Regions from separate parts of the Homo sapiens genome. Here all the other regions are reported to be linked to region 3. Evidence: microRNA targets listed by miRTarBase, many of them from high-throughput screens and not tested one by one. Region 3 holds a microRNA gene; each other region holds the end of a gene's coding sequence.

Region 1 (7,738 bases), not on the chromosome of region 3:
CTGGAGCTGTATCCTGCCCCGCAGGAAAGTTATGGTGCTGATGGTACTCTCTGCTGGAGCAGATTTGCTCAAATTAGGGCTGAGCTGATGAAGAAAGTGAGGCACTTAAGGCACCCCAAGAGGATCTTGTTCTGTACTGACAACTGCCCTGACCATGGCGACAGGTCATTTTATGACCTGGAGGCAGATCAATACTGCTGTTGAATGCCTGCCTATTTGGATGGGTATGTCAAACGCTTTCTTCTGGACACTTGGAAACTAAAACCTAGGTCTTAGGTACATCCTAAAGGGAGCACAGAACCCATCGTTTCACACATGGGCTCTGAAAGTGGGAAAGGAAAGCTGATCAAGCAGGGGCAGGACTTGGGGGAAATGTTGCCATGGATTCAATGGGACTTTGGGAACCTGTATCCTGTAGAGTCGAAAATGGGAATCTGAATGTCTAGAGTGGAATTCAGGCTTGAGAATACATGAGGGAGTTACTCTTGCATGGATGGTTGTAAAGAAACAATCAGAAATAAAGGAAAACTGAGCAGAATCTGTCTGGTGCCCTCTATTATTAAGTAACCTGTTTTCCAGTTTAAGCCTCAGGAATCTTCAGTTATTGATGGAAAAAACAAAAGGCACTGACTGAGTTGTCCAATCAATAAGATGCAGCCCAAGAAAATCAAGGCATTTAAATGAAATTTGGTTATTGTAACCAGTTTCCTCCCATTCTTTTATTTGAGACAGAGTTTCACTCTTGTCGCCCAGGCTGGAGTTTAGAGTGCAATGGTGCCATCTCAGCTGACTGCAACCTCCACCTGGGGTTTAAATGATTCTCCTGCCTCAGCCTCCCAAGTAGCTGGGATTACAAGCATGCACCACCATGCCCAGCTAATTTGTGTATGTTTAGTAGAGACAGGGTTTCCTCACTATGTTGGCCAGGCTGGTCTCAAACTCCTGACTTTGGGTGATTCACGCAAGTAGGCCTACCAAAGTGCTGGGGTTACAGGTGTGAGCCACTGTGTCAGGCTTTTGTTTTTGTTTTTGTTTTTGTTTTTTAAAGGTCTCCTGTCACTCAGGCTACAGTGCAGTGGCACAATCATACCTCATTGCAGCCTCAATTTCCTGGGTTCAAGCGATCTTCCCACCTCAGCCTCCTGAGTAGCTAGGACTACAGCTGTGTGAGCCACCACACCTGGATACTTTTTTTTAGTAGAAACAAGGCCTCGCTGTCTTCCCCAGGCTGATCTGGAACTCCTGAGCTTGTGATTCTCCTGCCTTGGCCTCCCAAAATGCAGGGAGTATAGGCGTGGACCACCACGCTTGGCTTGGCCTCCTCCAGTTCTTCACTTCTTTAGATGTCTGTTAACTCCTTGTTAGTTTCTGTGGCTGTTCAGTGGGTTAATACACACTAGGTGGACACCAAAGGCCTGGAACATTGCTGGGCAAGAACAGTGAGCCAATCCACACGGAAAGCACCTTCTTCTCAGCGTCTTTCACCGCTATCCAGATGCTGAGACCCTGCCCACTCCCTGTGAGTCTCCACATGCTTCCAGAAGCCTTAGTTGGTGGATGTCAGCTTCACTGCACAAGGAGCCAGTCTCTTCCCGCTGCCCTGGAAGGGGATGTCCATATTGTGTATTAGCTGGAGACTCTGGGCAGCACCAACCCTTGCTTGTTCCCCTGATGACCAGCAGCCCTTCTTGAATTAAACTTGTTGTAGCCAGTAAAGACAGCCACATTCCCTTTAAGTAAAATACTAAAACTATACAGGCATGTAACACTTTTTAAATATTTCCATCTGACATTTTAAAAGTTACATCTTTTTGGGGAGCTAGGTCAGATTGATGAGAGATTTTCTCATAACACCTTCCCTCTCTCCCTATGAAGGAAGTGACTAGTGCAGCATGTTCTGGAATCTGACATCATCAAAGGGTGGATAACGATCAAGTGCCTGTGGGTGATGAGTGACCTTCCCTGTGGTGAGGAAGCCTGCATAGTGGGCACCCAAGTGAAGGATCCTGCTGTGTACTCAGGGGCTGGTGTTGCTGTCAGGGATGTTAGCCTAGAGCCTCAGCTTCCTGTAAAATGAGGATGATGATATCCAACAGCTTATGGGACCTTGGTAGGATCCAATGAGATGGTTCATGTTTAGGGCTTGGCATGGGGTCTGGCATACAGTAAGATCAATACATCTTGTTCTTTTTTCTCTTCTCAGCAGAAGTCCCAGCATTTTTCATCTTTCAATCTCACCTCCTTTTCCTGATAATAGAGAGGCAACAAGAACTCAGGGCATGCAATGGGGCTCAACTTCTACTCTCTGCCACAATTTCATCATGATTCCCCCAAAGAGCAGAGCCCCAGGAGCCAGCAGGGGGCAGGGTGGGCATTTCTGGACTGGATTCATTCATAATAAGATCAAAATTTCCAATCCGTATGTCTCGGGTGCCATCTGCTGATAGATCGGACCAGATGGTATAATTGAGTGTTGCAAGGATTATATTTTATGGTGTTTTTAAAAATGTACTATTATGAGCCAGGTGCAGTGGCTCATGCCTGTAATTCCAGCACTTTGGGAGGCTGAGGCAGGTGGATCACCTGAGGTCGGGAGTTTGAGACCAGCCTGAGCAACATGAAGAAACCCCTTCTCTACTTAAAATACAAAAAATAGCCAGGCGTGGTGGCACACGTCTGTAATTGCAGCTACTCGATAGGCTGAGGCGGGAGAATCGTTTGAACCTGGGAGGTGGAGGTTGCGGTGAGCTCAGACTGAGCCATTGCACTCCAGCCTGGGCAACAGTAGCAAAACTCCATCTCAAAAAAAAGATAAAATAACATTTATTATTATGGCTGGGCATGGTGTCTCACACCTCTAATCCCAGCACTTTGGGAGGCCGAGGCAGCCTCGGGATGTTGAGACCAGCCTTGCTAACATGGTGAAACCCCGTCTCTACTAAAAATACACAAAATTTGCTGGGAGTGGTGGCATTCGCCTGTAATCCTAGGTATTCAGGAGGCTGAGGCAGGACAATCACTTGAACCCGGGAGGAGAAGATTGCAATGAGACGAGATCGCGCCACTGCTCTCTAGCCTGGGCGACAGAGCATGAAAAAAAAATTTACTATAGTGTGAATACTATTAGAGTATAACTATTTGTGTTGTAATTTATGTATATGAAAGATTAGAACTTTGAAAGAATGCAACGTGATATTTTAAGAATGGTTAATGGCCAGGTGTGGTGGTTCATGCCTGTATTCCTGGCACTTTGGGAGGCCGAGGTGGGTAGATCACGAGGTCAGGAGTTCCAGACCAGCCTGTCCAACATGATGAAACCCGGTCTCTACGAAAAATACAAAAAATTAGCCTGGCGTGGTGACAGGTGCCTGTAATCCCAGATAGTCAGGAGGCTGAGGCAAGAGAATCGCTTGAACCTGGGAGGCAAAGGTTGCAGTGAGCCGAGAATGCACCACTGCACTCCAGCCTGGGTGAAAGAGGAAGACTCCGTCCCAAGGAGGGTGAGAAAAAGAATACTTAACTTGGTTTGAAATGTCAAAACAAATGAGATTTTGAAAACTAATTTTAAAGACACTGAACAATAATCATTTCTTCTTTAAAATATATTTAGAACAATACAATTTTATCTTTGAAAGGAAACATTACAGTTTTTAAAAATCTTGAGTTTATTTCATTTTATTTTATTTTGAGACAAGGTCTCACTCTGTCGTCCAGATTGGAGTGCAGTGGCATGATCACGGCTCACTGCAGCCTTGACCTCCTAGGCTCAGGTGATCTCCCTGCCTCAGTCCCCCTGGTAGCTGGAACGACAGGCATGCACCATCATGCCTGGCTTATTTTTGCCAGGTTTCACCATGTTGCCCAGACTGGTCTTGAAATTCTGGGCTCAAGCGATCCACCTGCCTCGGCCTCCTAAATTGCTGGGAGTGAGCCCTTATAGGCATGAGCCACCGCACCCAGCCTTGAGTTTATTTATTTATTTATTTTGGAGATGGAGTCTCATTCTGTCATCCAGGCTGGAGTGCAGTGGTACGATCTCAGTTCACTGCAACCTCTGCCTCCAGGGTTCGAGCAATTCTCCTGTGTCAGCCTCCAGAGTAGCTGGGATTACAGGCATGCACCACCACACCTGGATAATTTTTGTATTATAATTATTATTATTTTTTAATAGAGACAGGGTTTGTCATTTTAGTCAGGCTGATCTCGAACCCCTGACCTCAGGTGATCCACCCACCTCAGCTTCCCAAAATGCTACGACTATAGACGTGAGCCACCACGCCCAGCCTATTTTTTTCTTTATAGCAGCTTTAGATTCACAGAAAAACTAAGCAGAAACTGCAGAGTTCTCATCTACCTTCTTCCCCCTTCAATACACAGCACCCCCACAGGATCAGCACCCACACCAGCACAGAGCATTCGTCACAATCAATGAGCCACAGGGACACATCATTATCACCCAATGTCCATAGTTCACATGGGGGATCATTGCTGGTTTTGTACATTCTATGGATTTTAACAAAGGGATAATGACACATATCCACCATTAGAGCATCATGGAGACTAGTTTTGTTCCCCTAAAAGTCCTCTGTCCTCTTCCCATTCATCCCATTGTACTCCCAACCCCTCACAACCACTGGGCTTTCTACTATCTCCATAGAAAAAGGCAAATGTCTAACAGGATGAGTCTTTTCACATTGCCTTCTTTCACTTGTACAATAACGTGCATTTAAGAATCTTTCATGTCTTTTTAAGGCTTCATAATAGTTCACTGACTGGATGGATCAGTTTGCTTATCCAGTCACTGACTGAAGGCCAACTTGCTAGCTTCCAGGTTTTAGTGATTATGAATAAGCTACTATAAACATCCAGCTGTGGGTTTACTCATTTCATTAAATATCCAGGAGCATGATTACGGAATTGTAGGGGTATGGTATGTTTTACAATGATTTCTTCTTTCTTGACAATCTCACTTGTTCGATATTGCTGCTAAAGGTCAGGAACTTTGTCTCAATCATCCTATGTTCCTACTGCTGAGCATGGAACGTGGCACTTGGTAGCAAATGCTGTTGACCACGTGATGCATGGAAACGTTTATCATGGGTATAGTCACTAAATTGCTACCTTGGCGACATCAACATTAGCTCACTACCAATAATATAAATAAATTGGATTATGGAAAAAATGGCCCTTGTGATACTGTGGATACTCCATGTGTATCATGAAAGTCCAGCAATTGACAAGGCACAGTGGCTCACATCTGTAATCCCAGCACTTTCAGAGACTAAGGTGGGTGGATCACTTCAGTCAGGAGTTTGAGACGACTCTGGCCAATATGATGAAACCCTTTCTCTATTAAAGACACAAAAATTAACTAGGGGGTTGAGCCAAGATGGCCGAATAGGAACAGCTCCAGTCTACAGCTCCCAGCATGAACAGTGCAGAAGACGGGTGATTTCTGCATTTCCAACTGAGGTACCAGGTTCAACTCAATGGAGAGTGTCAGAAAGTGGGTGCAGGACAGTGGGTGCAGTGCATCGAGCGTGAGCCAAAGCAGGGCAAGGCATTGCCTCTCCTGGGAAGGGCAAGGGGTCAGGGAATTCCCTTTCTTAGTCAAAGAAAGGGGTGACAGACGGCACCTGGAAATTCAGGTCACTCCCACCCTAATACTGCACTTTTCCAATGGTCTTAGCAAATGGCACACCAGGAGATTTTATCCCATGCCTGGCTCAGAGGGTCCTATGCCCATGGAGCCTCACTCATTGCTAGCAGAGCAGTCTGAGATCAAACTGCAAGGCGGCAGCAAGGCTGGGGGAGGGGCGCCTGCCATTGCCGAGGCTTGAGTACGTAGACAAAGCAGCCAGGTGGCTGGAACTGGGTGGAGCCCACTGCAGCTCAAGGAGGCCTGCCTGCCTCTGTAGACTCCACTTCTGGGGGCCGGGCATTGCCAAACAAAAGGCAGCAGAATCCTCTGCAGACTTAAATGTCCCTGTCTGTCTGACAGCTTTGAAGAGAGTAGTGGTTCTCCCAGCATGCAGCTGGAGATCTGAGAACGGACAGATTGCCTCCTCAAGTGGGTCCCTGACCCCTGAGTAGCCTAACTGGGAGGCACACCCCAGTAGAGGCAGACTGACACCTCACATGGCCAGGTACTCCTCTGAGACAAAATTTCCAGAGGAACGATCAGGCAGCAATATTTGCTGTTCACCAATATTCGCTGTTCTGCAGCCTCTTCTGCTGATACCCAGGCAAACAGGTTCTGGAGTGGACCTCCAGCAAACTCCAACAGACTTGCAGCTGAGGGTCCTGACTGTTAGAAGGAAAACTAACAAACAGAAAGGACATCCACACCAAAACCCCATCTGTACATCAGCATCATCAAAGACCAAAGGTAGATAAAACCACAAAGATGGGGAAAAAACAGAGCAGAAAAATGGGAAACTCTAAAAATCAGAGTGCCTCTCCTCCTCCAAAGGAATGCAGCTCCTCACCAGCAATGGAACAAAGCTGGATGGAGAAGGACTTTGATGAGTTGAGAGAAGAAGGCTTCAGATGATCAAACTACTCTGAGCTAAAGGAGGAAGTTCGAACCCATGGCAAAGAAGTCAAAAACATTGAAAAAAAAATTAGAAGAATGGCTAACTAAAATAACCAATGCAGAGAATTCCTTGAAGGACCTGATGGAGTTGAAAACCATGGCATGAGAACTACGTGACAAATGTACAAGCCTCAGTAGCTGATTCAATCAACTAGAAGAAAGGGTATTAGTGATGGAAGATCAAATGAATGAAATGAAGTGAGAAGAGAAGTTCAGAGAAAAAAGAATAAAAGGAAATGAACAAAGCCTCCAAGAAATATGGGACTATGTGAAAAGACCAAATCTATATCTGACTGGTGTACCTGAAAGTGATGGGGAGAATGGAACCAAGCTGGAAAACACTCTTCAGGATATTATCCAGCAGAACTTTCCCAATCTAGCAAGGCAGGCCAACATTCAAATTCAGGAAATACAGAGAATGCCACAAAGATACTCCTTGAGAAAAGCAACTCCAAGAAACATAATTGTCAGATTCACCAAAGTTGAAATGAAGGAAAAAATGTTAAGGGCAGCCAGGGAGAAAGGTCGGGTTACCCACAAAGGGAACCCCATCAGACTAACAGCGGATCTCTTGGCAGAAACTTTACAAGCCAGAAGAGAGTGGGGGCCAATATTCAACATTCTTAAAGAAAAGAATTTTCAACCCAGAATTTCATATCCAACCAAACTAAGCTTCATAAGTGAAGGAGAAATAAATTTCCTTACAGACAAGCAAATGCTGAGAGATTTTGTCACCACCAGGCCTGCCCCACAAGAGCTCCTGAAGGAAGTGCTAAACACGGAAAGGAACAACTGGTACAAGCCACTTCAAAAACATGCCAAATTGTAAAGACCATCAAGGCTAGGAAGAAACTGCATCAACTAACGAGCAAAATAACCAGCTAACATCATAATGACAGGATCAAATTCACACATAACAATATTACCCTAAAATGTAAATGGGCTAAATGCTCCAATTAAAAGACACAGACTGGCAAATTGGATAAAGAGTCAAGACCCATCAGTGTGCTGTATTCAGGAAACCCATCTCACGTGCAGAGACACACATAGGCTCAAAATAAAGGGATGGAGGAAGATCTACCAAGCAAATGGAAAACACAAAAAGGCAGGAGTTGCAATCCTAGTCTTGGATAAAACAGACTT
Region 2 (4,000 bases), not on the chromosome of region 3:
ATCTTAACTCTGTTTTTTTGTTTTCGTTTTTTTAATTCTTGTCAGTCAAAGAAATAGCTTCCCTGGTTTAATACTGCTTTTCTTCATAGACTGAAACAAATAATACAGCTTTCCTTTTAGTCCTTGTTCAGCCACACAACACAAACCAGTATGGCCTTTGGCATTTTACTGCAAGCTTTCCATTCGATTATTAATGTTTCCGGTGCCCATGATCAAGCATGGAGAAGACCTATAATTAATTGACTTTTCCTTTCCTTTAGGTGCAGTCGCTTTCAATCTGAAATCAAACGCTTGAAAATCTCATCCCCGGTGCGTGTTTGTCAGAACTGTTATTATAACTTACAGCATGAGAGAGGTTCAGAAGATGGGCCTCGAAATTGTTGAAGATTCAACAAGCTGAGTGGAGACCATGGTCTGTAGACCCCTTCCCGATTCTCCTGTCCCAGCTTGGAAGGCATTGAAAACAGTCTCCGTTTACACATCTCTTCATACCACGTGTTTGAAGTGTTAAAATTCAAAGGGATCATTGAATAAAACGGGTGTAGAGTACAGGAATGGGGCAGACGCGATTCAGGTGAACAGCACAAGAAGAATATGAGGTGGTTCCTAGGAGCAACACTTTCGACCTCCAGTTCTCCCTGATGACAGTAGCTGTCTCCAAGAGAAAAATCCTCACTTATTAACTCTCTTTTCTTGCATCTCATTTTTATAGAGCTACTCATCCTTATTTGGAAAAACCAACAACAAAAAAGGCTTTTAGAAAATGGTTGTAAATCTGACTTCTTTGCAAGTAACTATGTATATTGTAAATAGATATAAAAGGCCTTTTTTCTAAATAAGGACTTAACTGCCTGTAACATGAAACTTCAAACTAAACCACTAACTCAATGAACTACTTATGGTTTGTCTGACATCCCTCACTTACCAATTAATTATAAATATGTTTTTTTAAATCCCCAAAGACATTATCTGTGGTCTTTTTTTCCTTTCAAGCTCAGCCTGTGTGCCTGATGTCATTTCTTTCAAGTTGCCCACAGTATCTCCACTTAAACTAGGCTAGTAACCAAAATAATGTGGACCTTCTTTAGGAAACAGTGTGGGAGAATAGGAGTCCAGCCGTAAGATAAACTGGAAATATTTGGGCGTCTTGTACCTGGCTACGCACCACCTCAGTGTTGTTCCTACATAAACAGGGCCCCTTTTAAACTTGTATGTGGACTGCTGTTTGGTCAAAGAATACCTTCTTAGCATTGCAGAAAGGTGGTCAGATGACCAGTGTAGTGCAGGAAACAGCCCTGTCTCAACTAATGGAAATATATTTGCATGTAACCCAAAATTAGCTTATCTTGCATAGAACATAATAAGTATGTGTCTTTGGTGACACTAATGTTCTACTATAGCTTATTTTCAAACAAGGGGTAAAAAAAGGAAAGAAAGAAGTGTACAGAATTAACATATAAACTTTGTTGTAAAACTGAATCATGTCAGAACTGCTTAAAATTAACCTTTACCATTTAATGTCATCTACCTGAAAACAGTGAGATTTATACTGTATCAATGTCTATTTTTTTGTTTTTGCTATGAATATAATTACAGTATTTTAATATTTAGTTATTTAATTTGTTCTACTAGTTGGATACAGAACACACAAATCCAGGGGGATTAAAGCTGGAAGGGGCTAAGAGATTAGTTTACAGAGAAAAGGCTTGGTGGTGGGATTTTTTTAAATGTGTGTTATGTACATATATATATATATATAATATATATTAAAAATGAAACAATTAATCTAGATTTTAACATTTTCAGAAACTTAGTGATAACATTATGAACAATTCTAAAAGCCCTGTGATTTGAAAAATATAGAATCATTAATGGCCCAAGATAGGCCTTCACACCTTCACAGGTGCGAAAGGAAAGGCCTTCACACCCTCACAGAGGCATCATGCAAAGGACAGCGGCTTTGGCTTTTCCAATTTTCCATCTTTAGGCCCTGGTGAGAGGCACACTTATGCACTAAAATGCACATATATGCACATGCATTCAAAAATAGGCATTTGGTACAATGGTGATCTTGTACCTGATGGGCTGAAACCAGCTTAAGAACAAATTTGTTCTTCCTGATATGATAACTAGGTCTCCAAGAGAAAATAGAAAGGCTGCTTTAGTGCCTTACGCTTACTAAATTTAAATCTTTATTTACCTGGGTTTGAGCCTACAGTCTATTTATGATTACATATCAAAATTGATTAAAACACTTCCATTTCTAAAAGTTCAAATATACTTGTTAATAAAAGGATTATCGGCATTAATACTTTAATTTAAAGAAAAGTTGTGTTCTGTTTTCCTTTCTGTGTCTTACTCCCCCCACACTCTCCCTCCCCCATCACCATCTTCAATTCTAATAAATAATGCTGATGTTCAACAGTTGCAGAAATTGTGCTATTATGTAACTGTGGGCCTTGCCCCTGTCTGGCCCTCTAGATGATTTGTAGCAGTGTTATTCTACACTTTTTAAAAGAAGCGTCCTCCTTTTGTCCATGAATCATGTTTACCCCATACCCAGTGGCAGAGGTGTTCTTTAAAGACTTGAATATATGAATGTGTGTGTGTAGTTACTTAAAGGTTATTCCTCTTTGTAATAGGAAACTATATGGGATGAACACTTTTAAACTTTCCGACACAACTTCCATTACTAACTTTCTAACAGAACTTCCATAACTAGAAGGTGGAAACCAAAACCCTCATGGTAGTATTTCCTCTGGCAGCTGGTGCTGTGGGCAACTGTTTTGTTCAATCGGGTTTCTTTTCTTTTTGCCTCTAATGCAGAAATCAACAGAATCACTCACACATACAAGTACACTCACATACATAAACTAATTATTTCTCTGGATATCTTTCTGTGTTCCATGTAAATTTATTTACCAACATCTATTGTCAACATGTACATCTACCTTAGTATGGTCTGCATTCTTTTTCTGAGAGTACCTCATAGGGCTCCTGCCTGATCTTTGTAGTTTGTTCATTCATCCATCCACCTGTTCATTTGTTCATCCATGTATTCTAACATTTCTATGTAGTGTGCAACTCTAATGTCATGCTTTTGAAGAAGAGAATAGCTGCCCATAGCAGCCATCCGTCTGGATAATAGCAAAACACTCTAGATAAGTTATTTTGCACTTTCTTATGTATAAAGTTGGTAGAAACTTATTTTTGCTTTGTATCATTTAAATACATTTTGTTTTGGTAAATGAACTGTGTATAAAATATTTATGCCGTTAAAACTGTTTTTAGAAAGTATTTTTAATTTCAGCAAGTTTGGTTACTTGTTGCATGACTCTTAACACAGCTGACTTTTTGTGTCAGTGCAATGTATATTTTTTGTCCTGTTATTAACTTGTAAGCCCTAGTAATGGCCAATTATTTGTACAGCAACAGAAGTAAATTGAAGATACTGGCTAAGACTGGATTGATTGTGGACTTTTATACTATATTGCAGAAACCAATATCTGTTTCTTGGTGGTTATGTAAAAGACCTGAAGAATTACTATCTAGTGTGCAGTCTGTGATATCTGAATGTTCATTGTATATTTGTCTCTGATGCAAAAAGGTAGAGTAACACAATTACAATACATGATTAAATGCAATAGTCCAGGTACTTAAGTAATTTTTTTTTCATTTCAAATAAATACCTATTTACCACCAAAAGAAAGAAAAAGAAAAGTTGTTAAGTCAGTTATTCAGGGAAGGAAAAACAGAGATCTAATAACTCCCTAACTTTATGTAGTTCTTTTCTAGTTGTAAATACTTTCAGAAGCACCTGCATAAGATTGCAGAAGTATTGGCTGTTAAGGTTCCAGTTCCAGTTCTAGTTTGACTCATCCTTAAAAATCAGGCTTTCTGCAGTCTGAGCTTCTCAATTGTGCTGGATTCCCAGGGCTAATGAGTGTATGTGGATGGCAGTAAGGAGAAGCAAGCCCCTTCTGGGAGACGTGACCCTCAA
Region 3 (8,071 bases):
AATTAACATAAAAAGAAAAGGAGATGCTAGGAATAAATTTATAACATCTATTCTACATATCTACAAAGAACATAGCATGACTTTCCTGAAGTAAACAAAAACTATGTCATGCTCCCACGTCAAAAGATGACTGAGTTCGATTCTGTAAAGATTTTCAGTGTGCACACATTTCCTCATTGCAAAAGCAAAGTCAGAAAGATAAATGTTACACTTAGGGAAATCCGACAAAGCAATGATATTTTTAATGCCTAAATGTAAATTAAATAGATTATCAAGGAAAATTCTCAACAAGGAAGAATAAGAAGTATCATTCAAAGTTAGAAAATTAACACGTGGAGTGCTATGGTCTGAATTTTATGTTTTACGTACAATTCGTGTGTTGAAACCTAAGAACCAATGTGATGGCATTAAGAGGTGGAGTTATTAGGCAAATTATTAGGTCATAAAGGTGGACCCTGCATGAATAGGATTAGTGCCCTTATAAAAGAAGCCCCAGAGAGCAGCCTTGTCCCTTCTGCCATGTGAAGTTACAGCAAGAAGATGGGCTCTTGACAGACAATGAATCTGCTGTTGTCTTGATCTTGGACTTCCCGGCCTCCAGAACTGTAAGAAATAAATATCTGTTTATAAACTTCCTGGTGTATGGTATTTGTTTATAGTAGCAAGAATGGATTAAGTCACGGCTTTACTTCCCCAAAAAACTCAAAAAGTCTGCTAGGAAATAATTATGTGTTGCCATGATATATGGGAAAACACATAAATAGTTAAAAATATCTATCCCTAGTTTATATCACTAATCCTAAATTAAACCCCACTAAGTAGTGAAATTTTGAAACTTAAACTAGAAAAAGCATTTCATGAGGAAAGATGTCAATGTTTTCACATTTGTTATATGATATATATGTATACATCTTTCATATTATGCAGAACTCAGTGAATGTTCCCATTTGTTGGACAATGAAGGCATATTACACGTATCAGCTTCTCTAATAGTGACTTAGTGTAGATATTACACTATGGTTTCAGAAAAACAGAACCAATCAGTGGTGCGTGTATGAAGAGAGAAGGCGGAAAGAAAGAGAGGGAAAGAGGCGAGGGAAAGGGCAGGGGAGAGAAAGAGAGAGAGACTCAGAGAGACAAGGGATTTATTCTAAGGAACTGGCTCACAGAGTTGTTGGAGCAAGCAAGTTCAATCTCTACAGAAAAGGTTGGCAGGCTGAAGATCATAGAAGGCTTGATTTGGCAACTCAAGTCTAAAAGGCAGCCTGGTAGTAGAATTCCTTCTTCCTTTGGGGACCTCAGTCTTTTCCTCTTAAGGCCTTCAACTCACTGGATGAGGCCCATCCATATTATAAATGATAATCTGCTTTATGTGAAGTCTACTTATTTAAATATTAATCTCACGTAAAATTTACCTTCACAACAACAACATGACTGGTGTTTGATCAAAACTGGGTATCATAGCTTAGCCAAGTTGACACATACAATTAAGCTTCACATACATGTTTGTTTAAAATGAGAAACTGGATTTAAATATTAACGTACCATTGAGTGAATGCTGTTAAAAATATATATGGAATATAAAAATTTGTCTGTATATATCTCTTGGATTCACCGGTTATTGTGAGGAAAAACTAAATTTATAATTAAAAACTAATTTAAAAAATATCCCAAATTCTTTCTCTGAGGTCACAGTTAAGTCTCTTAACCACACTCTCACCAATGCTTCCCACCTGTATGAAAATTATCAGTTTTAATTGAGTAAAACTGTAATTATTAAGCATTAATAATGACTTAATGTTAACTTATCTACCAGTCTGGGTATTTATATCATATTCAAGGATTAAATTCATCTTCGATATACCAGGTCTTATAAAATTGTTACTATCTATATATGATAGATTTGTTATTAATATAGGCAAAGAGATATATGTTAATTTTTTTTGTAACCTAGATTCTGACAGACACACTAGTGATTATATTCACATACCACTTACATCCATCGCTGTATAGGCAAATTCCTCACAAGCAAATGAAGCCCTGCATTTAAGTGAAAATTAATTTCATTCACGCTAGGGAGTCTGGGAGCTAGGTGATTAGGAGACTCAAACATATCAACTTGAAGCAACCTTGTTCCACATGATGCAAAGAGAATGTTGCTTATTTTACAACTTTGAATTCACAACATCACATGCATTCCCCAACTAGTGAAATTCAACAGAGTGACCTTATAAAAGGAGATAATGAATTTCTGGAATACTAGAAACCAAACCGTACGGTCACCATAAAAAGCAATTATTCAAAGAGTATCATCATGTATGACAAAGAGATGGTGAGTTCAAAGCAACTGAATGAGCTGATGAAACCCTGCAGTATCATTTGAAATTGCAGCTGAACTATTAGAAGCCATTAACCTCTGCATTCCCCAGTGTGTCTTCTTAGAACTTCAAGATTTGAATTGAATGAAAACAAACATGTCTATCTAAGCAGGGATATACATAAAATGTCATACAGAACGAGCAAATTAAAAAATAAAGATAATACATATTCAATAAGTATATGAAACAAAATTGAATCACCACATCCTGGAAATTACAGTTGAACATGAATCTCTATATATTCTTGCCACATGACAAATAAAGCTGTGTGGCAAAAACTTACCATATCTTTTCCAGATATCTACAAGGAAAGCTGGAAATTTTTCCTGCAAAACCCCAAACCTGGATTGGTCATCTAATTCTATTATTAGAAGAGGAAGAAGATCATTTAGGGAAATTATTTTCTTTCAGTTGAGATTAACCCCCAGTGGTCCACTGGCTACCCTTAGAGTCTAAAGGTCTTGAGGACACCTTAGGTCCAGATGGCTCTCAGGACTCTGCTGGGTCTAAGAAAGGCAATTCAAGAGTGATTACAGTTCCACTTCCATCACCAGTCTGAAGGCCATCACAAACTTGTACTTACTCTACCCAGAAAGGACCCAGTGACATGTAATCTAAGTGACTGGCACATTTCTGAGTAGGGAACTTCCCACAGCATGGCTAATTGTGGAGATGCTGCCCCATCTTGCATGTTCTCTCCCTGTAGCTTTCATCACTCCTCCGAGCATAGCATGATGCCTGAACCCTGAACTTATTTATTCATTAGTCCTAGAGAATGCCCAAGCCCACTACCCTCCAACTTGCATGTATGCCTCACTGAGGACCCTCTCACTTGCTCTATGTTTATCTGGATGATTTCCAGGACCAGGAGAGAACAAGTTTGTTCCTGATTTCGCTTCTTCTTTTGGGAAATATCTTTATCTTCTGTATCCCGTAGGTGTTCACATTGTAGCAAACGACCATGAAACTTATTTTGAGGATGACTGAGTTCTAGCTAACCACCAAGGATCTCCTGAGATCAATGAGGACATCTCAAGGTGCCTGTAACTCTATACCCTCACCAGTCTGAGGGCCACCACAAACTTGTACTTCGTGACTCTTATTCCACCCAGAGAAAAAACCAATTACATGTAATCTAAGTTACTGGCACTCTATTAGTCAATTGTCATGCTGCTAATAAAGACATACCAAAGACTGGGTAATTTCTATTGAAAAAAGAGGTTTAATTGACTCACAGTTCAGCATGGCTGGGGAAACCTCAGGAAACTTGCAATTACGGTAGAAGGGGAAGCAAACACGTCCTTCTTTACATGGCGGCAGGAATGAGAAGTGTTGAGCAAAGCGGGTGAAAGCCCCTTATAAAACCATCAGATCTTGTGAGAACTCACTATCATGAGATCAGCAGCATGGGAGTAACCGCCCCCATGATTCAATTACCTCCCACTGGGTCCCTCCCATGACACATGGGGATTATGGGAACTATGATTCAAGGTGAGATTTGGGTGGGGACACAGCCAAACCATATCAGACACCTTTCTGGGAATAGCCCTGAACACAGCATGGTCGAAAGGGGAAGTGCTGCCCCATCTTGCATTTTCATACCCTGCAGCTTTCATCACTCCTCTGAGCACGGTATGATGCCTGAATCCTGAACTTATTTATTCATCAGTTCAAAATAATGCCCAGCCCACAAGCCCCCAACTTGCATGTCTCCCTCAGTGCCCTCTCACCTGCTCTATGTTTACCTGGATGATTGCCCAGACCAGGAGAAAACAAGCTTGTTCCCGTTTTCTATTCTTCAACTAGGAAGTATCTTCATCTCTTCTATCACTTTCTTCTTTAACATGATGGAGTCTACATCATTAGGAATGCACCAGTAGAATTATCTTGAGGATGCCTGAGGTCCATGTGGCCAAATAGGATCTCCTGGCATCAGGGAAGGCAGCTCAAGGCCCTTGGAACTCCACATCAGGGGTCTACAGGCAACTATATGCTTGTACTTGGTAAGCCTTAGTCCACTCAGAGAGGAACTAGTTACATATAATCTAAGTGACTGGCACCTTTCTGGAACATATTATGGACGAATGGGGAGGGGCTACTCCATCGTGCAATGTGAATCCCCATCCTAGAGAATGTCCAGCCCACTGCCCTCCATCATGTATGTTTCCCTCAGCAAGAGCACTCTCACTTGGCTTCATGTTTACCCAGATGGTTGCCAGGACCACGAGAGAACAAGCTTGTTTTTCTGTTCTTCTATTAGGAAGTATCTTCACGTCTTCTATCCTTCTCTTCTCTATCATATAGGTATTCTCATTATTAGGAATGAACCACTGAAATCATCTAGAGGATGTCTGAGGTTCAGGTGGCCAGCTAGGATCTCCTGGCATCATTGAAGACAACTTAGGGCTCCAGCAACTCCAACTCATCGCCTGTCTGAAGACCACCACACACTTGTACTTGGTAAGCCCTACTCCACTCAGAAAGGAAACAGTGACATGTAATCTAAGTGACTGGCACCTTTCTGAATAGGGCACTGCCCACAGCACGACTGATAGTGGAGGTGCTGCCCCATCACCCACCATCACGCACTGCAGGTTTCATCACTCCCCTCAACACAGCAGGCTGCCTGAGCCCTGAACACATTTATTAAGTCCTAGAGAAGTTCCAGCCCACTGCCCTCCAACTTGGCATGCCTGCCTCAATGAAGACCTTCTCACTTGATTTATGTTTCCCTGGATGATGGCCAAGACGAGAAGAAAAAAAATCTTGTTCCCGTTCTCTCTTCTTCTTTTAGGAAGTATCTTTATCTCTTCTATTATTACCTTATCTAACCTGTAGGTGCTCACATTGTTAGAAATGGATCATTAAAATCATCTTGAGGATCCCTGAGTTCCAGGTGGCTTCCAAATCTCTCCTGGGATCAATGAAGGCAGTTGAAGGTGCTTGCAGGTCTGTCTCCTCACCAATCTGAACGCCATCACAAAATTGTACCTGGAGAATCTTGCTCTACCCAGAAAGGAGCTGGAAACATCTAATCTAAGTGACTGACCCCTTTTGGAGTAGGGCACTGCCCACAACATGGCTAATTGTGGGGGTGCTGTCCCATCTTGCATGTTCTCCCCCTGTAGCTTCCATCACTCCTGAGCACAGCATGATGCCTGAACCCTGAATTTATTTATTCAACAGTCCTGGATCATGTCTAACCCACTGCCCTCCAATGTACATGCCTCCCTAAATGAGGAACCCCTCACCTGCTCTATGTTTACCTGGGTGATCGCCAAGACCAGGAGAAAGCAAGATTGTTCTCATTCTATTTTTCTAGTAGGAATTATCTTCATCTTGTCTTTCTCATCTATAACCTGCATGTGTTCATGTTGTTAGGGACAGACGATTTAGAATATCTCGACGATGCCTGAGGTCCACATGGCCAACTAAGGTCTCCTGGTATCAGGAAAGGTACCTCAAGGCTCTTGAAACTCCACCCTATCATGGGTCCAAAGGCCACTACAAACTTATACTTGTTGAGCCTTACACTACCAAGGAAGAAACCAGTGATGTATAATCTAGGAAACTGGCACATTTCTAAGTAGGACACTGCACACAGCATGTCTGATAGCGGAGGTGCTGGCCCATCTTGCAAGGTCAACCCCCGTCCAGGAGAATGTCCAGTCTGCTGCCCTCCATGACGCATGTCTCACTCAATGAGACATGCTCACTGCTCCATATTTGCCCAGATGGTTGCCAGGACCATGAGAGAACAAGCTCGTTTTCTGTTCTTCTATTAGGAAGTATCTTCATTTCTTCTATCTTTCTATTCTCTGAAAAATAGGTATTTCCATTGTTAGAAATGCATCATTGAAATCACCTTGAGAACACCTAAGGTTCAGGTGGCCAGCTAGGATCTCCCGGCCTTACTGAAGACAACTAAAGCCTCCAGCAACTCCACTGCATCACCTGTCCGAAGGTCACCATGAACTTGTACTTGGTAAGACTTACTCTACTCAGAAAGGGAATAGTTACATGTAATCTAAGCAACTGATGCCTTTCCAAGTAGGGCACTTCCCACAGCATGTCTGATTGTAGAGGTGCTGCCCCATCATCCACCATCGTGCACTGCAGCTTTCATCACCCCACTCAACACAGCAGGATGCCTGAACCCTGAACTTAATCTTAATTCCTAGAGAATTTCCAGCCCACTGCCCTCCAACTTGGCATGCCTGCCTCAGTGACGACCTTCTTATCTGATTTATGTTCACCTGGATGATGGCCAAGACAAGAAAAGATTGTTCCTGTTTTCTCCTTTTAGGAAGTAACTATCTTTTCTGTCATTGCCTTCTCTAATTTGTAGGTGCTCACGTTGTTAGAAATGATCATCTTGACGATGCCTGAATTCCAGGTGGTTTCCAAGGTTCTCCTGGGATCAATGAAGGCAGCTCAAGTTGCTTGCAGGTCTACCCCCTCACCAGTCTGAGGACCACCACAAAAGTGTACTTGGTGAGCCTTCCTTCACCCAAAGAGGTGTCAGTCACATGTAATCTAAGTGACTGACAGCTTTTTGAGTAGAGCACTGCCCACAACATGGCTAATTGTGGAGGTGCTGTCGCATCTTGCGTGTTCTCCACCTGTAGCTTCCATCACTCCTCTGAGCACAGCATGATGTCTGAACCCTGAACTTATTTATTCATCAGTCCTGGATCATGTCTAGCCCACTGCCCTCCAAGGTATATGCCTCCCTAAGTGAGGAATCTCTCACCTACTCTATGTTTATCTGGATGATTGCCAGGACCAGAAGAGAGCAAGATTGTTCCCATTTTCTATTTTTCTAGTAGGAATTATCTTCATCTTGCCTTTCTGATCTATAACCTGTAGGTGCTCATGTTGTTAGGGACAAGCCACTTAACTTATCTTGAGGATGCCTGAGGTCCACATGGCCAACTAAGATCTGCTGGTCTCAGGGAAGGTACCTGAAGGCTCTTGCAACTCTACACTATCATGGGTCCAAAGGCCACTACAAACTTATACTTGGTGTGCCTTACTCTACCTGGAAAGGAACTAGTGACATATAATCTGGGCGACTGACACATTTCTGGGCAGGGCACTGCACACAGCATGGCTGATTGTGGAGGTACTGCCCTATCTTGCACAGTTATACCCTACAGCTTTCACCACTCCCCTCAACACAGCATGGCGCCTGAACCCCGAACTTAACTTATTCATAAGTCCCAAAGAATACCCAGCTCATTGCCCTTCAACTTGCATGCTTCCTTCAGTGAGTACCCTCTCATCTGCTTTGTTTAGCCAGATAATTACCAAGACCAGTAGTGAACACACTTTTTCCAGATTTCTCCTCTTCTACAAAACATATATTGATCTTTTATCTTTTGCTTCCTTAACACATAAGTGCTCATATTGTTTGGTGTGCACCATCGAAATCATCTTGAGGATGCCTGAGGTCCACGTGACCAACTAGGATCTTCTGGCATTCGAGAAGGCAGTTGAAAGGCCCCTGACGCTCCACTGCATCAGGAGTCCAAAGGCCAGCCAAAAGTTGTGTTTGGTGATATTACTCCACCCAGAAAGGAACCAGTTACATATAATCCAAGTGACTGGAACTGTTCTAGAAAAGGCACTGCATACATTATGGCTGAATACGGAGGTGCTGCCCAGTCTCGCATGGTTGCTCCCAGCAGCTT
Region 4 (8,071 bases), not on the chromosome of region 3:
CCTCATCCTTCATAGTCTCCCTGGGAGGGTGATTGCGATGACCTCCATTTCACACTTGCAGAAACGGAGGCTCAGACAGAGCAGTGCTCATCCAGAATCACAATGTGAGCATGGGCAGAACTGGCCGGGATCCTAGAGCCACCTGCCTCAGAGCTGTCCCTTCCTGTGGGAGGGGATTCATCCTATTAGACCTGGCTCTGGGACTGCAGAAGTGAGCTGACATGATCCCTGCCCTCAGGGAGCTTGTGGCTTAGCACAGGGTGTGGGCAGTTACATTGCAGGGGAATGGGCAGCTGGAGTAGGCGAGAAACTTGACCTTAGAGGACCCAGAAGAGGAGGCAGTGAGCTCTAGGGGAGAGACAGGGGACAAGAAGAAGGGTGTTCCACATCAAGAGAACCGCATGTGCAAAGGCCCAGAGGCATGGAGGAGCTTGGGCCGGAGGGGACCCTGGGGGACGTTCAGTGTGGCTGAGGTCCAGGGAAGTGGGGAGAGCCGACAGGGGCCACAGAACAAAGGATCATGGAAAGAGGGTCTTGGACATTATGTGGAGGGCAGGGATGGGCCCTGGAGGTACAGAGGGCTGGGCTCAGTGCTTGGAGAGGAGCCTTTGCCTCCTGGTTGCTCAGCTAAGCTTGTGGTTCTGTCTCATTCAGCCTGGGGGATGAGCCATGCTGGGGGCTGTCAGATTTGGCTATAGACAGTTTCTGGCTTCTGGATTTGGCTGCTGAGCCAGAGTTTTCCCTTGCTGGGCTGTGTCCCCAACTTTGCACCCAGAAAGTCTGCATTAAAGTGTCTCTCCCTCCTTCATGACCTTCTGTCCTCTCACTGTCAGGCCTTTCCGCCAGCTCCTAGGGACTTTTCTTGTCCATAACTCTCAAATTCCTGGGGCTTGGTGGGCGGCAGGGTGTGGTATGTGTGTGGCCAGCACAGGATTGTCTGGGCTTTCTTCCAAGTCCTTCCAGGCCTGAGCCTGCCTAGCTGTGAGGAGACTCAGTGTCCCCATGGGGCTGGCCCCTGAACCCACTCATCTAGACCAGCACTGGCCTGGCCAGGAGAACAGTGCTCTGAGCACTCAGGGGAGCATCCCCTGCCTCCACCGCATCGTCATTTGGCCACACACACCTGTGAGGTTCCAGAGCCACATTTCTTCCTGGTTGTGTCCCCTGATCCCACAAATCCAACACTTGGAAAGTTCTTAGAAATCAGGGCTAAGCTGTCATTGATCAGTGGAGGAGACTGAGACCCATGGAGGGGAAGGGTCCTACCAGGGTCGCCACTCTTGAGAGAGCTTTTCCTAATAAGGGCTAAAAGCCAGGCATTCTGGAGGCCAAAGTGGAGCAGTGGCCAGGGTGGGGAAGGAATGCCCACCCTGGCCACTCTGGAGTTAGGCCAGCTCGGAATCCCAGCTCTGCCACCTCCCCTGTGAGATCTGGGAATGCAATTAGTTTCTCTGAGCTGCGGTTTCTACATCTGCAAACTGGGGATAATAATAGTTCCCACTCCGTAGGGTTGCTGCAGAGAATAAATGCATAATGTGTGTAAGGAGCCCAGCACAGAGCCTGGTGCACAGAAAATGCCCCCAGGTGTTGGTTATGATCATGATCACTATTATGGTGATCATCATCATTGCTTTCCTCCATCACCTCCTTGTGATAACCAGTTCTGGGCAAGTAACATTCCTGATCAGAAAAGGGAACAGCCATGTAGTCATGCCCACCAGATGCCCCTCACACTTTACTGTGAAATGACACATTGCCATTGACCAGCCAGCCAGTGATCCTTGACCTGAACTTCAGGGAACTGGCTGTGTCAGCAGCAGTGAGATGTCAACCAAGTGCTAGAGGTGGGAGTGGGAGGGGGAAAGGGACAGACAGTCCTGATCTCCCACTGTGTATCGGGCACCCAGTGTGTCTGAGCCACGCACTTCTAGGCTTCGTGCATGTGAAGATTAAGCGCATGTGAAGTGCTTAGCCCGTGGCCCTGTGGGTAATAAGCAGTCAGCCACTATGGTCACGGTGACCTTGGAAAGGTAGAGGCAATGTGCTTTGGTAGGGAGAGCTTGCTGTGAGCCAGGCCTGGCCTCCAGTGCCAGGTCCTCCTCCTCGCTGTGTGCCCACGAGCTCACTCGCTTCCACCTCTTTGAGCCTGAGTGCCCTCCTTGTAAAACAGAACGTTGGAACTCCCTCACGGGGCTATGGTGCGGCTTCCGTGAAATCAGGCACAGAAGGTGCAGGGTGAAATGCCCAGAAGGCTTTTGCTGCTGCTGTTGTATCTCATTGAATCTCTCTGATTCTCAGAGAGAGATTTTGTCATCCTTGTTTTAAAGATGAGGAAACAGGCTCAGAGAGGTGCAGTGAGTTGCCCAAGGTCCCACAGCAAGTCAGTTGACAGAGCCAGGATTTAAACTCAGATCTGGGCCCTGAGTCCACCCTTCTTCTCTGTGCCTTTGAGGTTCTCTGGGGGGCAGCAGGGTGGGGCAGGCCCCCAGCTCAGCCACCTCCCATGCCCTCCTCTTGCAGGTCATCCTTTTTCAGTACTAACGCTGCCGGCACTTCCGCATCTGCCCGTGGGCGCCCCACAGCTGCCCCTCAGCCGCTGAGATCCAGTGTCCAAGCTGCGGCCAGGAGTCCACCCACCTCCGCATCCACCCCCGTCCGCCATCCTGCCCACCACCAGGTCGGTTCCCGAGGCCTGGCCTTTCCCTCTCCTGCTGAGAACCAGAACCCACCAGGAGCACCACAGAGTCCTCCTCTTGGAAGGCAGAACTCCCTGAAATCTGGAATCAGGGTGGAAACAGCCTGTTTTTCCCATTTAAACAGGAGTCCTCTTCAACTTCAGCTGATTACAATAACAAAAGGCGGAATTGAATTGTGCGATGCCAACGGCCTTCTCATTTACAGGTTTTTTTCCCCCACATTGGCCTTTATTTACTACTTCCTTGGAACCATCTCTGAATTCTGAATAGCTGACAACCCCCAATGTTATCCACTCTGTTGCTTTTGTCTGGAAAACTCTACAGTGTTTGTGGGATGTCCCCAAAGGAAAGCTATGTTCTAATTTTATCATTTCCATCTGTCTGGTTATGTCAAGTTAATTCAGAAAGAGAAGAGACAGTGACCAACCCTGAGAGGCCTAATAGGGCAGAGATGGAGGCCTGCCCAGACTAGGAGGCAGCGGGGATAGACAGGGAATGGGGAGAAGAAAGACCCCCATTGGTTTGGAAATCAAGGAGAGGGCGGTGACATATTGGACCAGAAGAGGCACTAGCCATTTTAAGGAGAGGAAAGAGAAAACTCTGGGGTCAGGGAGAGACCCTACCCCCACCTAATTATCCAGCATATATGTAAGAAACATAGCAGCGATGGTATTCGATCTGTGCCATGACTCTTCTGAATGTTTGGACAGGTTAGAGTTGGGGACCCCTGTTGGCCACTTGTTGACCTCTCATAGTGGTGCTTGGGCCAGGTCTTCTCAATGGAAGGGGAATCCCTTATAGGGGAGAGGGAACAGAGCCCAGTGAAATGGCAGTCAGAATGTTAACCCTGGATCCATCTCTAAGTAGAGAGAGGGTGCCCATTGCCTAGGTGAGTGTGCCAAGCTCAGGATTCCAACTGGTGCCTCTGAGCTTCCCAATCAATACTTCCTGGAGCCAGCCCCACCCACCCCTGAGAACAGAGGTCAGACACAGCTGCGTAACATCCATCCTGCTACAACTCTTCCACCCCAAACAAAAGGGCTCAGGCTACACACGACCATGATTTATGTTTTCAGGGGATGCCCATTTGTCCCAAGCTTATCCTGTAATTCTAGAATTACCTGGTGTCCTGATGCATTTTCCACTAGAGGTTGCTAATCAGCATGTTTTAGCCCAAGTCCGCCTTCCTGCTGTGGTTAACCTGTTATGTTGCTTTTGGAAGGAGACTCTAAGACAGGGAAAGCAAGTTCATGGTACATACGCAGCCATTGTCTCTGTTTTTACCCATGGCAGACATTGCTAATCAATGGCAGCTCTATTTCACTGAGTCTGGATAAGGTTTCAGAGTTCAAATGCTTGACGTTGGCACTTAACATGAAAGCCTATAGGTCATTCTTGCTCTGGGATCTACAGGCAGGGTAGGCACAGGTGCAGCCTAAGAAGGGAACCTGCTTCCTCTCCCTTCCAAAGACAGTGACAGCTGACTGAGGGCAAAGAGCAGGCACCACTCAGAACGTGGTGAGTACAGCTCAGCTCAGCACTCAGTCAGTGGTAACTTGTGCCCAGCCCTGTGCTAGGCGCTGACATTAACAGGAGCAACCAGGGCCCAATTCCTGGCCTTGGAGCTCAAATCTTTCCTTTGATTTTTGCTCCTGATCATCAAGGCCCCAGTGGCAACCATGTGGTAAGTGGCCAACCAAGCCCTACCCAGGGTCACCCAACACACTCTGCCTTGAGCCTCTCCTCAGGGTCTATTCCTTGCGTGGATTATGTGGCCGTAGCATGTTACAGTTCAAACATGTCTCCACTACCCTGTTAAGAGCAGCCTGGGAACGTACAGGCCATCAAGACTATTTATTTAAATACAAAAAAAGGGGAAAACACACACACGGAAAAAAAATTGTAAGCACTTTTTTTGTAAAACCAATGTCTGTTTTGTTACATACCTTTCATGTCGTGCTTTGTAAATGTCTTATTTGTGTAATAAAGTTAATGCAAGTAGAAGTGCTGGCACTGAAATCCAGAACATGATGGGATTCCATTTCTTTCCTGCTCTCTGGTGAAGGGCTTAGGTCCCTGGCTCCCAGAATATGTGGGCTGCTGGACAGTGTAATCCTCCTTCCTGGGAAACGGGTACCATTTCCCAGTTAGTAAACAATGGATTGTGGAGGCCTGACGATGGGTTTCTTCTGTAAGTACTCAGTCACACCTGCTTCTTATCTAAGCTTTGGAGGAAATCAGGCTGCTTGATGCCCTCTGTTCCAGTCTCTGAACATACACTCTCTGCTGGGCCCTGTGCTGGCTCTGCACACTGAGAAAAGGCTCCCAGCCAGACCTTGTCCTGGAGGAGCTCTCAGTCTGGCAAATACTGTGGGAGCCAAGGGGGTGGGTGTTAAAGCTGGATCCTATCAGATGAGAAGGTCACAGAATAGGTAAGCAAGAGGGTGGGGCAGGGAGGGAGGTGCAGAGGAGCGTGTTTGGAAGATGGGGAAGAATTTAATAAGGTGAAGTTAAGGGAATATGGAACGGGCAGCAGGGCCCCAGGTTCTGCACAAGACTGGGTCTTATAGTGGTTTTGTCAGGCTCCAGAGCCACCACCTCATAACCTGAGGAGTGAGAGAGCGCATCTTTTTGGTGGTTGTCAAATTTCTTTCAGCAGCAGAGTCATTTGCTCAAGCCAAAGCTCCTGGTGTGGAGAGCACAGCTGCCCTGCAGAATGCAGAGGCTTCCCTGGCCTGCTGTGGCCCTGCACAGAAATGAGTTGCTCAGAAACCTCAGCTCATGGTGCACATGAGTCACTGACTGCAGGGCCCCTCTCTCTATTCTACTAGTTTTTAAATCTCCCATCCCTGATTCCATTTCTGCTCCTCATACATCTGCTCTTCCAATCCATTTTCAAGTGTTTAGATATATGTGTATCTTTGAAAATATATGAGTTTAGTTGTGTGTTTCTTTACATGAATGTACCTTCTGTTTTCAAAATACAGTTTGGAAACCACCGGTGGAGCACAACCCTATCTACCAAGGTGACTGGCGTCTTGGGGAGAGGTGATCCTCCCAAGTCTGCTCCCTAGCGCAGCTGAGAGTGAGCCCAGGCCTCCCTTCCCGCTGACTCCTGGCTCTGCCCCAGCATGACGCCTCTGGGTCCCTAGTTTGAGATCCAATTTCCTCTCCTGCCTTCCAAGCCTGACTCACTGTTCTGCCTCCACTGGGCAGCCCTGGTGAGCCAGGGGACAGAGCATAGGGGGTAACAGGATCTAGCAACCTCTAAGGAGGAACAGTTAGACAAAGATCCAGGATGCATATGGCCCATATGTGGCCCTGGAACATGTTGTCGCTTCCTCTTCTGATTTTTAGCTGACAAATGTGACCTCTGGGATGATTTTGAGGAATGATTATATGCACCACTAACAAGTTGTTCTTTAAAGCAAACACATATTGAATACCTACTATGCGCCAGGTCCCCTACTTGTATTATCTCATTTAACCACACGGCTACTGTATTGTTTTAAAGCATTATTATAACCATTTTTTATATGATGCCAAAGCCACATTCTTTTTTTTTTTTAGACAGAGTTTCACTCTGTCACCCAGGCTGGAGTACAGTGGTGAAATCTTGGCTCACTGCAACCTCCACCTCCCATGTTCAAGCAATTCTCATGCCTCTGCCTCCCAAGTAGCTGGGAATACAGACGCATGCCACCATGCCCGGCTAATTTTTGTATTTTTAGTAGAGATGGGGTTTCACCATGTCGGCCAGGCTGGTCTCGAACTCCTGGCCTCATGTGATCTGCCGGCCTCGGCCTCCCAAAGTGCTGGGATTATAGGCGTGAGCCATCACACCCAGCCTCCAAAGCCACATTCTTTCTATGGCACCATGCTGATTCTGTGCTTAGGATGTGAGGTTCAAATGGGGGAGCTGGCAAGAGGGAAAGACAGGCCTGAGTAATCATTCTTGGGCCTAACAAGCTTGTCCAACCCACCTTATTTTGTTGTTGTTGTTTTTGTGTTCTGTTTTGTTTTAGGCTTTCAGCAGCCTGAAGCCATGGTTTTTAGTTTCTGTCTCTAGTGATAAGCAGAAAAGAGGGATGAGGAAGGGGCTTCACTGGCCCAACCAGAAACAGAAACTAAGAACCCATGACTGCTGCAGGACTGGGCACAGTGATCAGGTCCTACTGCCCTCTGAGACCAAGCAAGTCACTCTGTCTCTCTGAACCTCAGATTCCCCATCTGCAAAAGCCTTCCCCTTGCAAGGCTGTTGTGAGGAGCAGAGATAATGCACACGCACTACCTGCGCCGGTTAGTGCTCAATTACATCTATCTATTATTATAAAGAGATGGTTCTCAAACGTTCAGATGCATGAGAAATGCTGGGAATGCAAATTACTAGGCCCCATTCCCAGAGATTCTGATTGGGAGGTCTAGGGTGGGGCCTGGGAATATCTATAGCTCACAATTTTGTCCAGGTTAAATGATGCCCACTGAGGAACAATCTTTTAAGGAAAATACACCTGGGGCCACTGACCGCAGAAAGTCTTTATTCCTGAGTTAAAATCAGGTTCTAGAACTACAGCCCGTCCCCCAGGGCAGCCAATGCTAGTAGGGCAGATGGAAACCTCTGGTGGAGGCAGCCACAGAGTTCACGGCTCGGGCCTGTGACCCACGATCTCATCCTAGCCCTTTCGACAGGTACGGGTGATCCACTCATGCTCGTCATCATCTGCAAGGAAAGAGGAAGAGCTGGTCATGCTTGGTGCTCGCTGGGACCTTTCCTGGCCTGGGGGGTTCCCCAGGTGGGGCGTTGGGACTGGGATGGTCCGTCGATGGCCAGTCTGTGTAGTTTTGTGTGGGGAGGAACAGACCTTTCATTTACACTGAATTCCTCGGAGTGGCTGGTCTTGGGGAAATTGAACACAGAAGGGTTTCTAACTGTGGGTGCTGCTGGCGGAGGCAAGCATGAGGAGTCTGGCCACCCTAAGCTGGACTCATCCTGACAGGCAGAGAGCAGCTGCTTCACAGTCGGGCACTTGCCTGGTCTGACAGCCCACGCACGACAGCCCCAGGACAGTGGGTCTAGGCCTTGCCGGTGGTGCTAGGAGACAGAGTCCTGAGATCTTCATTTCCTTTCTAGGCTCTCCATTCTTGACCCTTTCAAGAACCCATGGTTTCTCCAGGGGACTAACACCCTCTTGTTTACTCCAGGCCTTTCAGTGGGGAACGGAGAGGGGCAGGAGCTCGCCGCTGTGCCTGAAAGCCCTAAACGCAGTGTCTCCTTAGTTTAATCTTCGTGACCAACCACGCAATGGGCAAGCCTTCACCACCGTTTTACAGATGAACAAACAGAGGCTCACAGAGGCCGAGGCACTTGTCCACAG

Evidence for each region. Region 3 holds the annotated microRNA hsa-miR-892c-5p (UAUUCAGAAAGGUGCCAGUCA, at 4,886-4,906, opposite strand). A microRNA usually pairs through its seed, bases 2 to 8, with sites in the 3' UTR of a target mRNA and lowers its output. Matches are read on the target gene's strand: a 7mer-m8 pairs with bases 2 to 8, a 7mer-A1 pairs with bases 2 to 7 and ends in A, and an 8mer does both.
Region 1: miRTarBase lists PRAMEF11 as a target of hsa-miR-892c-5p. Seed matches in the 3' UTR shown: 7mer-m8 at 434-440.
Region 2: the mRNA of WDFY3 is a reported target of hsa-miR-892c-5p. Seed matches in the 3' UTR shown: 7mer-m8 at 3,569-3,575.
Region 4: miRTarBase lists LHX6 as a target of hsa-miR-892c-5p. Seed matches in the 3' UTR shown: 7mer-m8 at 2,951-2,957, 8mer at 2,958-2,965 and 7mer-m8 at 3,390-3,396.

The regions. Positions count from the first base shown.
Region 1 is chr1:12,817,408-12,825,145 of GRCh38, reverse strand. PRAMEF11 (PRAME family member 11) reads left to right here. Exons shown (of 4, transcript NM_001146344.3): 4 at 1-541. The coding sequence ends at 204. It overlaps LINC01784 (long intergenic non-protein coding RNA 1784), which reads left to right and starts at 1,923. Exons shown (of 2, transcript NR_146629.1): 1 at 1,923-2,110; 2 at 2,207-2,460.
Region 2 is chr4:84,669,252-84,673,251 of GRCh38, reverse strand. WDFY3 (WD repeat and FYVE domain containing 3) reads left to right here. Exons shown (of 68, transcript NM_014991.6): 68 at 261-3,655. The coding sequence ends at 384. Among named protein-coding and RNA genes, the nearest start is that of CDS1, 88 kb to the right of the region's middle.
Region 3 is chrX:145,987,911-145,995,981 of GRCh38, forward strand. MIR892C (microRNA 892c) reads right to left here and starts at 4,916; the gene lies at 4,840-4,916. It overlaps MIR890 (microRNA 890), which reads right to left and starts at 6,441; the gene lies at 6,365-6,441. It overlaps MIR888 (microRNA 888), which reads right to left and starts at 6,950; the gene lies at 6,874-6,950.
Region 4 is chr9:122,199,230-122,207,300 of GRCh38, reverse strand. It overlaps LHX6 (LIM homeobox 6), which reads left to right. Exons shown (of 10, transcript NM_014368.5): 10 at 2,521-4,719. The coding sequence ends at 2,541. MORN5 (MORN repeat containing 5) reads right to left here. Exons shown (of 5, transcript NM_198469.4): 5 at 7,218-7,416. The coding sequence ends at 7,370. Among named protein-coding and RNA genes, the nearest start is that of LHX6, 26 kb to the left of the region's middle. RefSeq lists a silencer at 7,230-7,442.